Homo sapiens: one gene and its partners. The protein of the gene in region 3 purifies or fractionates together with the protein of the main gene of each other region. This does not show direct contact. Each region holds a gene or a part of one and is shown on either strand. Other genes may lie near its edges. The genes, in order: HOXC13, POU2F2 and FOXJ2.

Region 1 (3,748 bases), about 46 Mb from region 3:
GGAGGGAGGTGGCCCGAAGGGGTTTCTGCAGACCTGTCCATTTGCTCTCCACTTGAGGGGTGCAGTAGGTCTGGCTGAGCGAGGCGCTGCTCTGTGGCCATGGTCTGTGCGCTGGCTGCACACGAGCACTCAGCATTTAAAACCTGTGGCAGAGGGAGGAAAGAAGGAAACGCTGCAGCCCCTTTCCCCTCTTATTTTTCTCTCTTCATTACGATTTCTCAGGGAGGTCCTGTGCTGAAAGGGAACTTGACTCAATTCCACGGAGATGCTCCCTTAGAAAGGGGTGACTCTATTGAGGCTCCTGACAAGTTGGGAGATTGGGAGGAAAGAAGGGAGAGCTTTTGAAGAATCAGTAAGTTGGTGTTAATTTTTTCTTTGAAATAGGGGGCAGTTTTAGATCATGAAACTATTCCTCACTAAAAGAGGGTGACCTAAGAAAGCCGTGGGAGCTCCATTGCGGGTATTCAAACTGGGGACTGTGTCATGTGGCTTAACCCAGGCCCCTGAGGGCAGAGGTGGGTTCTGCAGGGTCCCCCAGAGTGGCGCCAGAGAGAGGTCCCTCCAAAGGTGTAGCACTGAATCTCCCCCATTTTCCACGTTTTCTTTTGTATACCTATAGAAAGCGCGCTCTCCTTCGCATCCAGGGCTTTTAGCTTTCCCAGGCTGAATCTTGCGCCCCCACCACCCGCATTTCTTTGAAAAACCTCACTCTGAGATTTTTTATTTCTATTACATATTGAAATATCAGTCTATTCTATTGCTTTTATTTCCCTCGTTTTATTCTTTCTCCATTTATTGCCGAGTATATTCCATTGCCTCTCGATCCCCTGCCCCAGGTGATGAATTCTGTATTTGGGGGTTGTCACACCCCTCTCCGCTTGAGAAAAATCCAGCGAGGTAAAGCAGAGTGTCCTTTTCAGACATCTAGAGTTTTGGGGAATGTGGCTGAAGGTAGGAAATGGAAACACAATCCCGGCATCAAAGGCTCGCTACGCAGCATCGGGTTCTTTCCAGCCGCGAGCGGAGGCGAGCTGCCAGGGCCAGAGCGCTCCTGACTGTTTTCTATTATCTTCATTTATTATTTTTTAAAACCTGGTTTCTTCCCCACCCTTAGCTTCAAGCCCCAATCCAGAGACTTCAGCAGTCACAGTGATCGGCTTGGCGGTAGGGGGTCTGTCTCTCCGGTGCACATCCTATGCCTAGGCGGAGGCGCCCAGTTACAGCGCTCTCCTCCCTACACCCCTTTGCGTCGGCCAAATTCAGCCTCCCCCCCCTCCCTCTCCCTCCCTGGGGCCTGCCGGGGGCGTCTCCCTGTCCCTTTAAATCTCCCAGCTCCCGCCTCCTTTGGCCTACCTGAGATCCAATCAGCACAGACTTTTTCCCTTTCGCCCCGCCCCACCTCGAGGGGAGGGAACCCCAGGAGACCTGGCCGGGGCATCACGTGCGCAGAGCGGGTCACGTGGGCGCGGGAGGGGTGCTGAGAGGTGGAGAGCGGGAGCCGGCGGATTTCTTAATGAAGTGTCTCCGCATGCGTAGAGGGAATGTAGGGAGGGAGGTGGAAGCACTAGGAGGAGGGGAGGGGTGGAGAGAAAAGAGGGGAGGGATGGGGGGAGGGGAAACAGGAGCGAGGTGTCTCCCTAGCTCGCTGCCTCTGGCAAGTGGAGTTTTTAAAAAGCTCCAGCAGATCATGTCATGACGACTTCGCTGCTCCTGCATCCACGCTGGCCGGAGAGCCTTATGTACGTCTATGAGGACAGCGCGGCGGAGAGCGGCATCGGCGGCGGCGGCGGAGGAGGAGGCGGCGGCACGGGCGGAGCGGGGGGTGGCTGCAGCGGAGCGAGCCCCGGCAAAGCCCCGAGCATGGATGGTCTGGGCAGCAGCTGCCCGGCCAGCCACTGCCGCGACCTGCTTCCGCACCCCGTGCTGGGCCGCCCGCCGGCTCCCCTGGGCGCCCCTCAGGGCGCCGTCTATACGGACATCCCGGCCCCGGAGGCGGCGCGCCAGTGTGCCCCGCCGCCCGCACCCCCCACCTCGTCCAGCGCCACCCTGGGCTACGGCTACCCCTTCGGGGGCAGCTACTACGGCTGCCGCCTGTCGCACAACGTGAACCTGCAGCAGAAGCCTTGCGCCTACCACCCGGGCGATAAATACCCGGAGCCGTCGGGCGCCCTGCCCGGTGACGACCTGTCCTCTAGGGCCAAGGAGTTCGCCTTCTACCCCAGCTTCGCCAGCTCCTACCAGGCGATGCCCGGCTACCTGGACGTGTCGGTGGTGCCCGGGATCAGCGGGCACCCGGAGCCGCGTCACGACGCCCTCATCCCCGTCGAAGGCTACCAGCACTGGGCTCTCTCCAATGGCTGGGACAGTCAGGTGTACTGCTCCAAGGAGCAGTCGCAGTCCGCCCACCTCTGGAAGTCTCCCTTCCCAGGTAAGGAAGGGACCCGAGCGCCGCCGCCGCCGGGGACCCCTCCCCGCCCTGCCTGCCCCGGGGCTCCGCGCCCCAACCACCCCCGCCGTCTGGCCCCGGCGCGCCCGCTCGGCTGGGCTGCCTATGGAGCCGGCCGGGCGAGCTGCACTGAGGAATGCGCCGGGGAAGAAATCTGCTCCGACACGTTCTCTGTAGCTGCCCGGCCGAGAATGAAGCAATCACAGGCGCCCGAAAGCCGGGCCGCCGGCTCTGCTCTGTCCGGTAGCTCGCCTCCGCCTCCCCTTGCAGGCTCCAGCCTCCCGCCGGGCTCTTGGCCCCTAAACCTGCTTCCGGCAAGGGATGGGGGCGGGGTGGGCCTATAGTGCCTTGGAATCCAGGACAAAACCCCCAACCCACCGAATAACTGGGGAGGGCGGAGAATAAGAACCCCCACTTTCTTTGACAGAATTCGCAGGATCGTTCAGGCACTAGACAGTATTTTTTAAATAGGGGACTAATTTGCTGGGGTCTACAGAAATGTGAGATTTATTTTTTTCCTTTCCTGACTTATTTTAAAAATCTGGCCACGAATTTCCTGATTGTTGAGGGAACAGAAGATCCAAAATCTCTGGAGAGGGAGTGGAGAGGAGGCTAGAATCCCTCCCCAGCATTGTAAAGTTTTCCTTGCCTCTTTGGTATATTGAGCTCAAACCTATAGACATTTCCACTGCCAACTCCCCCATATGTGGTCGAGAAAGAGAGTTAGTTATTGGTGCCCCAGACACAGAAAGAAGGGCGTGGGGATGAGAAATGGGAGAGGAAGACCTGTTCAAGACCTGTTCAGGGGCTTCTGGAGTCCAGACCCAGGCTGGGGACCCCTTGGTCTTGTCTGGCTAAGGATGGGAAGGGAGAATTCATTCCCCTCTTGTTCCGTCTCCAGTTGAAGAGAGAAAGGCTCCTGTAAATCCCACCGCTCTCCTTGCGGACAAGACCAGTCCCAGGTTTCCCAAAACCACACCAAGAGCTTTGGATCCTGCCTTGTGCTGAGAAATCAGGATTCCGGTCTAGGGAGTCCAGCATTTGAGTCTGTTCTCCCTGTAAGCAGAGCTCAGTGGGAGAGCGTTCTCCCTTCTGATACCTACAGAGGTCTTTGGGGGTGGGGGGCCCAGGGCAGCCACAGATGTCTCCCGACAGTGCCCAGCTCCCCGACCAGCTCCACGTGCCAAGCTCAGGGATGTTTTCCTTGGAAAGCATAGACCCAAAGACCTCCTAAGGGTGGGCCTGAAATTCCTCTGCATACGGAATTGGAAGAAGAGGTAGGTGGTTTAAAAAAAAATACTG
Region 2 (3,648 bases), on a different chromosome or scaffold from region 3:
CAGCAGGGTTGTGAGGGAAGGATCTGTCCCTTCTGAGGGCTGTGATGGAGAGATCTGTTCCAGGCCTCTCTCCTTGGCTTGCACGTGGCTGTCTTTTCCCTGTGTCTCTTCACATCATCTTCCCGTTATCCATGTCTATGTCCAAATTTGCCCTTTTTATAAGGACACAAGTCATATAGGATTAGAGCCCACCCTAATGACCTCATTTTAACTTGATCATCTGCCAAAGACCCTATCTCCAAATAGGGTTAATCTCTGAGGTTCTGGGGGTTAGGATTCCAACTTACCTTTTTGGGGGGTGGCAGGGAGTGGGGGGAGACACTGCAACCTATAACAGTGCTAAAGAGCTTCCCGGAGTGGTTGTACTAATTTACACTATTTGCTGGAGTATTTTAAAGCTAATTCCAGACATGAAATCATTTGCCTTGGGAGTGTTTTTTGTTTGTTTGTTTTGTTGTGTTTTTTGAGACAGAGTCTTGCTCTGTCACCCAGGCTGCAGTGCAGAGACACAGTGGCATGATCTCAGCTCATTGCAATCTCCGCCTCCGGGTTCAAGCGATTCTCCTGCCTCAGCCTCCTGAGTAGCTGGGACTACAAGTGTGTGCCACCATGCCTGGCTAATTGTTTGTATTTTTAGTAGAGACAGGGTTTCACTGTGTTAGCCAGGATGGTCTCGATCTCCTGACCTCGTGATCCGCCTGGCTCGGCCTCCCAAATTGCTGGGATTACAGGTGTGAGCCACCGTGCCCAGCCAGGAGTGTTTTTAAAGGAGGAAAGACCTGGTCTGGTTTACAATTTTATTATTTATTTATTTATTTTTGAGACAGAGTCTTGCTCTGTCACCCAGGTTGGAGTGAAGGGGCGTGATCTCGGCTCACTGCAACCTATGCCTCCTAGGTTCAAGCAATTCTCCTGCATCAGCCTCCGGAGTAGCTGGGACTACAGGCGTGTACCACCACACCTGGCTAATTTTGTATTTTTAGTAGAGACGAGATTTTGCCATGTTGGCCAGGCTGGTGTTAAACGCCTGGCCTCAGGTGTGTCCGCCTGCCTCAGCCTCCCAAATTGCTGGGATTACAGGCATGAGTCACCACACCCGGCCTGGCTTACATTTTTAAATGATTCTATTTGTTCTGCGGAAATGTTAAAACAAGGAAAATATTTCATCAAGAAAGAAAGGGTAGCCGGGTTCGGTGACTCACGCCTGTAATCCCAGCACTTTGGGAGGCCAAGGCGGACAGATCACAAGGTCAGGAGATTGAGACCATCCTGGCTATCATGGTGAAACTGTCTCTACTAAAAATACAAAAAATTAGCTGGGAGTGGTGGCGGGCACCTGTAGTCCCAGCTACTTGGGAGGCTGAGGTAGGAGAATGGCGTGAACCCAGGAGGCGGAGATTTCAGTGAGCCGAGATCACACCACTGCACTCCAGCCTGGGCGACAGAGCGAGACTCAAAAAAAAAAAAAAAAAAAAAAAAAAAAAAGAAAGAAAGGGTAAATAAAGAGTGAGCCCTCCCAGGACTGCCCAGTTGGGACTCTCTGGTACCCCATGGTAGAGAGAAGCCTCTGGGTGCCCTTAGCTCAGGGATGCCATTCAGAGACCGAGTGGACGATCCCTCACTGCCCAGTGCCAGATCGCCATGTGGAGCAGCTTCCTGGTTTCAGCCCCTCAAGGTTCAGGTGATGCAGAGAGGATGAAACCCAGCCAGGACTCAGGCTATCTTTCTGTCCACCCCACTCCCTGCCAGGACATACAGCAGCTCCTCCAGCTCCAGCAGCTGGTGCTTGTGCCAGGCCACCACCTCCAGCCACCTGCTCAGTTCCTGCTACCGCAGGCCCAGCAGAGCCAGCCAGGTAAGGCCCCCACCCCAGATGGCCTCCCTGACGCCTCCACAGAACTTCCTCACCTTCCCCTCCCCCTCACCCTGTGTATTTCCCCTTGTCTTTCCAGGCCTGCTACCGACACCAAATCTATTCCAGCTACCTCAGCAAACCCAGGGAGCTCTTCTGACCTCCCAGCCCCGGGCCGGGCTTCCCACACAGGTGAGACTGTCCATTGAGTGCACCAGGCCAGGCCAGCAGCAAGGCCTGCTGAAAGCTGGGTAAACGGGGGTGGGGGATGAGTGAGAGTCTCCTTTCCATTTGACCCAGCCACACTCTGCCAGTGATTTGCTGTGAGACCTCAGGCAAGCCCATCTCCCTGTCTGGGTCAGCCTCTTCCTCTATAGAATGAGGGGAGCTGGCCCAGACAAGTGGTTCTTAACCCTTTCTAGTACATGAGCTCCTTTGAGAATATGATGAAAGATTTAGATCTGATCCCCATTCCCCCAAAATGCTCATGTGTAAAAACACACAAAATTGCAAGGGGCTGCAAGCCTTTAGGCTGCAAATGCCTCGGGCCTCTTCCAGCACTGCAACGGAGGATTCTCTGAACAAGGCATTCGTTAGGTGATTATTTCACATCCACTTCCCAGACTGGAGACTGAAAACAAGGCCCACAGGTGTCTTTTATTTGGTCATTGTCAACTAAATTCCCAGAAAGCACCACATTTCCAGCTCCTCTTGATAAACCAGAAAATCTGGCAGGGCTGTACCTGTGTCTACGTGGTGGCTTGGCGCAGTGAGCAGTTGGCCTGGCCACTGGCAGGAGCAGAGGCCCCTTAGAGAGGGTGCCAGCTCTCCAGGCCACCTTGGCACCTGGACCCCGAGGCCTTTCTTTCAGTTTGCTGCCTGAGTTCTAGACTTTAATGATAATTTTCACTACCTTTTATGAATTTCAAAGTTTTTTTCTACCCATTTTTTATAGCCCTTTAAAAAAATATATGTGAACTATTTCAGAAGGACTGACTGAAGAGTTAGAGACTAATACAGGTCTTAACTGCAGTTCTGAAATCCCAAATGCTCAGAAAGTCAAGTTGTTCTTCCACCATTGGCATGAGAACTCATTTGACTGCAAAACCTGCCCTGCCATGATATAAGCCAGTGTATGACTTTTCTTTGTCCCTCTTGGTATGGCATTTTTGCTGCTGCAAAACTGTTACTGTATCTGATTAAGGAGTAATATTCTTGACCCTAGTGGGGGTGGGGGCCGGGCCACATTATCTATGATATACATCCTATGTAGGCTTTCTTTCTTTTTGTTTTTTTTTTTTTTTTTGAGATGGAGTCTCGCTCTGTTGCCCAGGCTGGAGTGCATTGGCTCAATATCAGTTCACTGCACCCTCTGCCTCCCAGGTTCAAGCGATTCTCCTACCTCAGCCTCCCAAGTAGCTGGGATTACAAGCATGCGCCACCACACCCAGCTAATTTTTGTATTTTTAATAGAGATGGGGTTTCACCATGTTGGCCAGGCTGGTCTCGAACTCCTGACTTCAGGTGATCCACCTGCCTCGGCCTCCTAAAGTGCTCGGATTACAGGCATGAGCCACTGTGCCTGGCTGCCTATGTAGGTTTTCTGAAAACTGAAACAGGCACGGTGGTGCATGCCTATAGTCTCAGCTACTTGTGAGCCTGAGGCAAGAGGATCACTTGAGCCCAGGAGTTTGAGGCCAGCCTGGGCAACATAGCAAGACTGGTCTCTAAAACAACAACAACAACAAAACCTGAGAGGGGTGAGAGTGGGTGGATGATGAGAAATTACTTAATGG
Region 3 (3,648 bases):
GGAATCATACAGTCTATTTCTTTTGCATTTTTCAGTTTAGGACTTCACTGATTCAACAGATATTCAGTCAACTGATAAACTAGTTCCACTGCTCAATTTGGGTCACTGCCCCATAAAATCCTTTCTCTCAGTTCTCTTTTGCCTTTCTCCTATGCTTCCTTTTCAACATAGTCTCCACCTCCATGGCAACTGGCTTGGTGCAGTACCTTGGCTCATGGCTGACTCCTGTTTGCCACTGGTGAGGGCACAGGAGTCAGCAATACGGGCAGGGGCTGGTGGGCGGTGGGTACCCCCTTGAGGGGGCACGTGACCAGTCTGAGTAAGGAAGTGGTTGAGGGAGTCACACAGATTGGCAATGTGATGCTGGTCGAGGGTCCAGTTCTTCTGCTCTGCCTGTCGTAGACTCTCCATCAGTTCTACAAAGAGGGAAGCAAGCAATGCAAACCTTGCAGAGGTAGGAAGCCCCTATCAGACCCCGCCCTATCTCACTGTTCCAAACACACCATCAATCACCCCCACTGATAACGGGCACTAACAATAACAATTTATATCTTTCAGAGCTCTGCATTTTCAAACTCTCATTCTATTTGATCCCTTACCAAATTCTTATAATTGCCATCTTACTGATGAGTAAGATAAACTTTCAATGTGACTGAGTGACTCAGCCAAGGTCACACTGTCAGTGAGTGGTGACAAAACTACAAAATCGTGGTCCACGGTCTCTAAATTCCTGAGGGCCTTCTCCCTCCCAAAGACAGAATGGACTAGGATTATTCACTGCCACATTTTCAGTTAAGACAAGATTAATTTGAGTTAATTTGAAAATAATGTAAATATGATCCATCTTGTGTAAAAAGAAAGAAAAACAATGAAATCCTCATTTCTGCAACTTCATTTAACCACCCCCTTCCGGTTCCAGTTTCTACTGGGTTTTCCCTTACAGTGTATCCCTCTCTTCCTTCGTCCTTTGATCACTAACCTGAGAATTGTGACTGCTCAATGCTGGACCAATTGAGCCGATTCACCATCTTGAAGCTTTCCTTTAAAGAGTCAATATTAGAGCACCAGTCAGAAGGAAAGGCTGTAAAGAGGAGGGGAAAGTGGATAATAAGATAGAGTGAAGTGTAAGACAGCAGTCAACTGATACCAGGCTGACTACATGCAAGATTCTTGCATCTATACAGATTAGCAGTTGCATTTCCAAGTTTTGGACTCTCCCTCCCTGGGAGTTTAGGACTGGAAAAGCTAGCTACGCTTTAAGTACAGCCAGGCTCATAGTCAGGAGAATATGTAAAACAATCTCAATTGATCCAGGAATTCTATAAGACAGAGCTCTAAGTAGTAACTTTGTTCAGATTAGCTCACATGAAGGAGCGAAGCCTAAAAGACCCATCATTAACTTCCTAACTAACTGCACCTCCATGCCGGTGTTAGGACAAGGACATCACCCCACCCTCCTCTAGATCACTGTGCACCCTCCTTACTCACCAAAGCCAGTGTTGTTGATGGGAGCCTGGCCTTGTGCCTGTGGCTGTGGAGGTGGTGGCTGCTGGGCAGGGTGGGAGTGGGGATGGTGCTGATGAGGGTGGTAGCCTCCATGCTGCAGCGGGGGTGGATGCATGGCCATTACAGGGGGAGGCCCATAGCCTTCCGCCCCAGCTTGCTTTCCCCCTGGTGGGGTACAACCATCTGTGCTTGGGGTGTGCAGTGGAGGAGCACCCCCTACAGCTGAGGGGCCCTGGGCAGGTGCCTGCTGCTGCTGTGGCTGGGACTGCTGGGGAGGTGGCTGTGGCGGCTGCTGCTGCTGCTGCTGCTGTTGAGGTGGCGGTGGCTGCTGCTGCTGATACATGTAGTAGTTGTTCGAGGGTGGGATGTCCCCCAGGAGAGAAGAAAAGCCTGCAGGTGGGGAGGAAGCAGGCAAGTGACTTAAGCAATGCATTTTTCACAAAATGGGATTTTCCCTGGGTTGAGATGGGAAGCCTCAGACTAAAACTGTGGAGTTAAAAGGGTAAGAACATTCTAGGGCAGCAAAGATCCCTGTGGCCCTCCTGGCAGGTACAAGAGACAGGAAGGCACTTAGGTTAGAGGAGGGCCCTGACAGTGTGGAGACCACTGAAATCTTACTAAAAAGGTCAGTGTGTAGCATTTAATGCTACTTTTTAGGGATTTGGCTGAAGGCCTGAAATCACAGTTTCCCAGCAGGTGAACTTTAAAAAGGAAACCATCCCTGGTCATCTAGTGTTTAGGGAAAAAAAAAAAAGTAAATCAGAAACAAAACAAAGCCATCAGTTGTCTACTATCTCCTCTTCCTTCCGTTTTTTGTTTTTTGAGACAGAGTTTCGCTCTTGTTGCCCAGGCTGGAGTGCAATGGTGCGATCTCGGCTCACCGCAACCTCCGCCTCCCAGGTTCAAGCAATTCTCCTGCCTCAGCCTCCCGAGTAGCTGAGACTACAGGTGTGTACCACCACGCCTGGCTAATTTTGTATTTTTAGTAGAGACGGGGTTTCTCCATGTTGAGGCTGGTCTCGAGCTCCTGACTTCAGGTGATCCGCCCACTTTGGCCTTCCAAAGTGCTGGGATTACAGGCATGAGACACCACGACCGGCCCCTTATTTTCTCTACACTCTGCTACTGCCAAGTCATTCCTGTACCCTCTATAAACAAATGTAGCTTGGGTAAGGAGCAGAGACAGGATGGAGTTATTTCTCAAGCAGACAGGCTGGGAAGAACAAAAGTCTGAGACTAGGGGCTTTCGGTCACAATAAAACTTGAGTGAACTCTAGGCTGTCCTCACCCAATCTAATTTTTTACTTTATTTCTGACAGTTTCTCATGTTCCCTCCTCCAATCAACCAACCACCTGAGTCGGATTCATTTTTTGAGCAAATGCTACAGTCTTGGACACTACTCTAGGAATTGATCCCCTGTGATATACAAGAAGAAATTCATGAAAATGAATATAAGTTTTCCAAAAAGTGACTCCTAACCAGTTTTTATCATTCCATTCAGCCCCTGCTGCCAACATAGGGCTACTGCACAGAATGAGAAGGTCTAATGCCTCACCTGAAATCAACTTCACCACTGTCTCTAAGTTATTTAAAAAACGAACACACAGATATTGCAGAGGGCCGAACCAGATGTTCTCTCAAGGGGCCTCCCAGTAAAAACTTTAAGTCATTCTCATATGATAATTAGGAAAATGTGCACGGACAAGATACTAGCTGATATTAAGGATGTATTATCAATTATGTTAGGAATGATAATGTCATGGTAGATAACTAGAAGAAAGTCATCATTTAGAGGTGTATATCGAAGTTGTATTTATGAGTGGAATGACATGGTATATGTGAATTCCATTAAATTACTCCAATTTTTAGAAGGCTCAGTGGTAAACAAAACAAGCCTAATAAAATACTGATAACTTAAAGTTGGGGGATGGAACACAGGGGTTTATTATATTTTTCTCCACACTTTTGCATCTGTTTGCAATTTTTCACAATAAAAGTAACATAAATGTAAATACACTAAAAAGAAACTGTTCTCACAATGAAACGCAGGGATTCTTCAGGAGAGGGTACTGCTGCTGCCCCCTCGTGGTCGTCCTCCAAATGACTCACTTGCAGCCCTAAAATCACTGCCCTTAGTCCTG

Evidence for each region.
Region 1: the proteins of FOXJ2 (region 3) and HOXC13 purify together in Homo sapiens (affinity purification with mass spectrometry; one large-scale study listed by BioGRID and IntAct). This does not show direct contact.
Region 2: the proteins of FOXJ2 (region 3) and POU2F2 purify together in Homo sapiens (affinity purification with mass spectrometry; one large-scale study listed by BioGRID and IntAct). This does not show direct contact.

Annotation. Positions count from the first base shown.
Region 1 is NC_000012.12:53,937,215-53,940,962, forward strand, and holds the start of HOXC13 (homeobox protein Hox-C13), read left to right. Parts: upstream 1-1,616; 5' UTR 1,617-1,692; coding exon 1,693-2,428; exon of another isoform or gene 2,429-2,429; intron 2,430-3,748. UniProt on the Homo sapiens protein: Transcription factor which plays a role in hair follicle differentiation. Regulates FOXQ1 expression and that of other hair-specific genes.
Region 2 is NC_000019.10:42,097,923-42,101,570, reverse strand, and holds part of POU2F2 (POU domain, class 2, transcription factor 2), read left to right. Parts: intron 1-1,749; coding exon 1,750-1,855; intron 1,856-1,952; coding exon 1,953-2,044; intron 2,045-3,648. UniProt on the Homo sapiens protein: Transcription factor that specifically binds to the octamer motif (5'-ATTTGCAT-3'). Regulates IL6 expression in B cells with POU2AF1. Regulates transcription in a number of tissues in addition to activating immunoglobulin gene expression.
Region 3 is NC_000012.12:8,046,130-8,049,777, reverse strand, and holds part of FOXJ2 (forkhead box protein J2), read right to left. Parts: intron 1,897-3,648; coding exon 1,489-1,896; intron 1,082-1,488; coding exon 980-1,081; intron 417-979; coding exon 207-416; intron 1-206.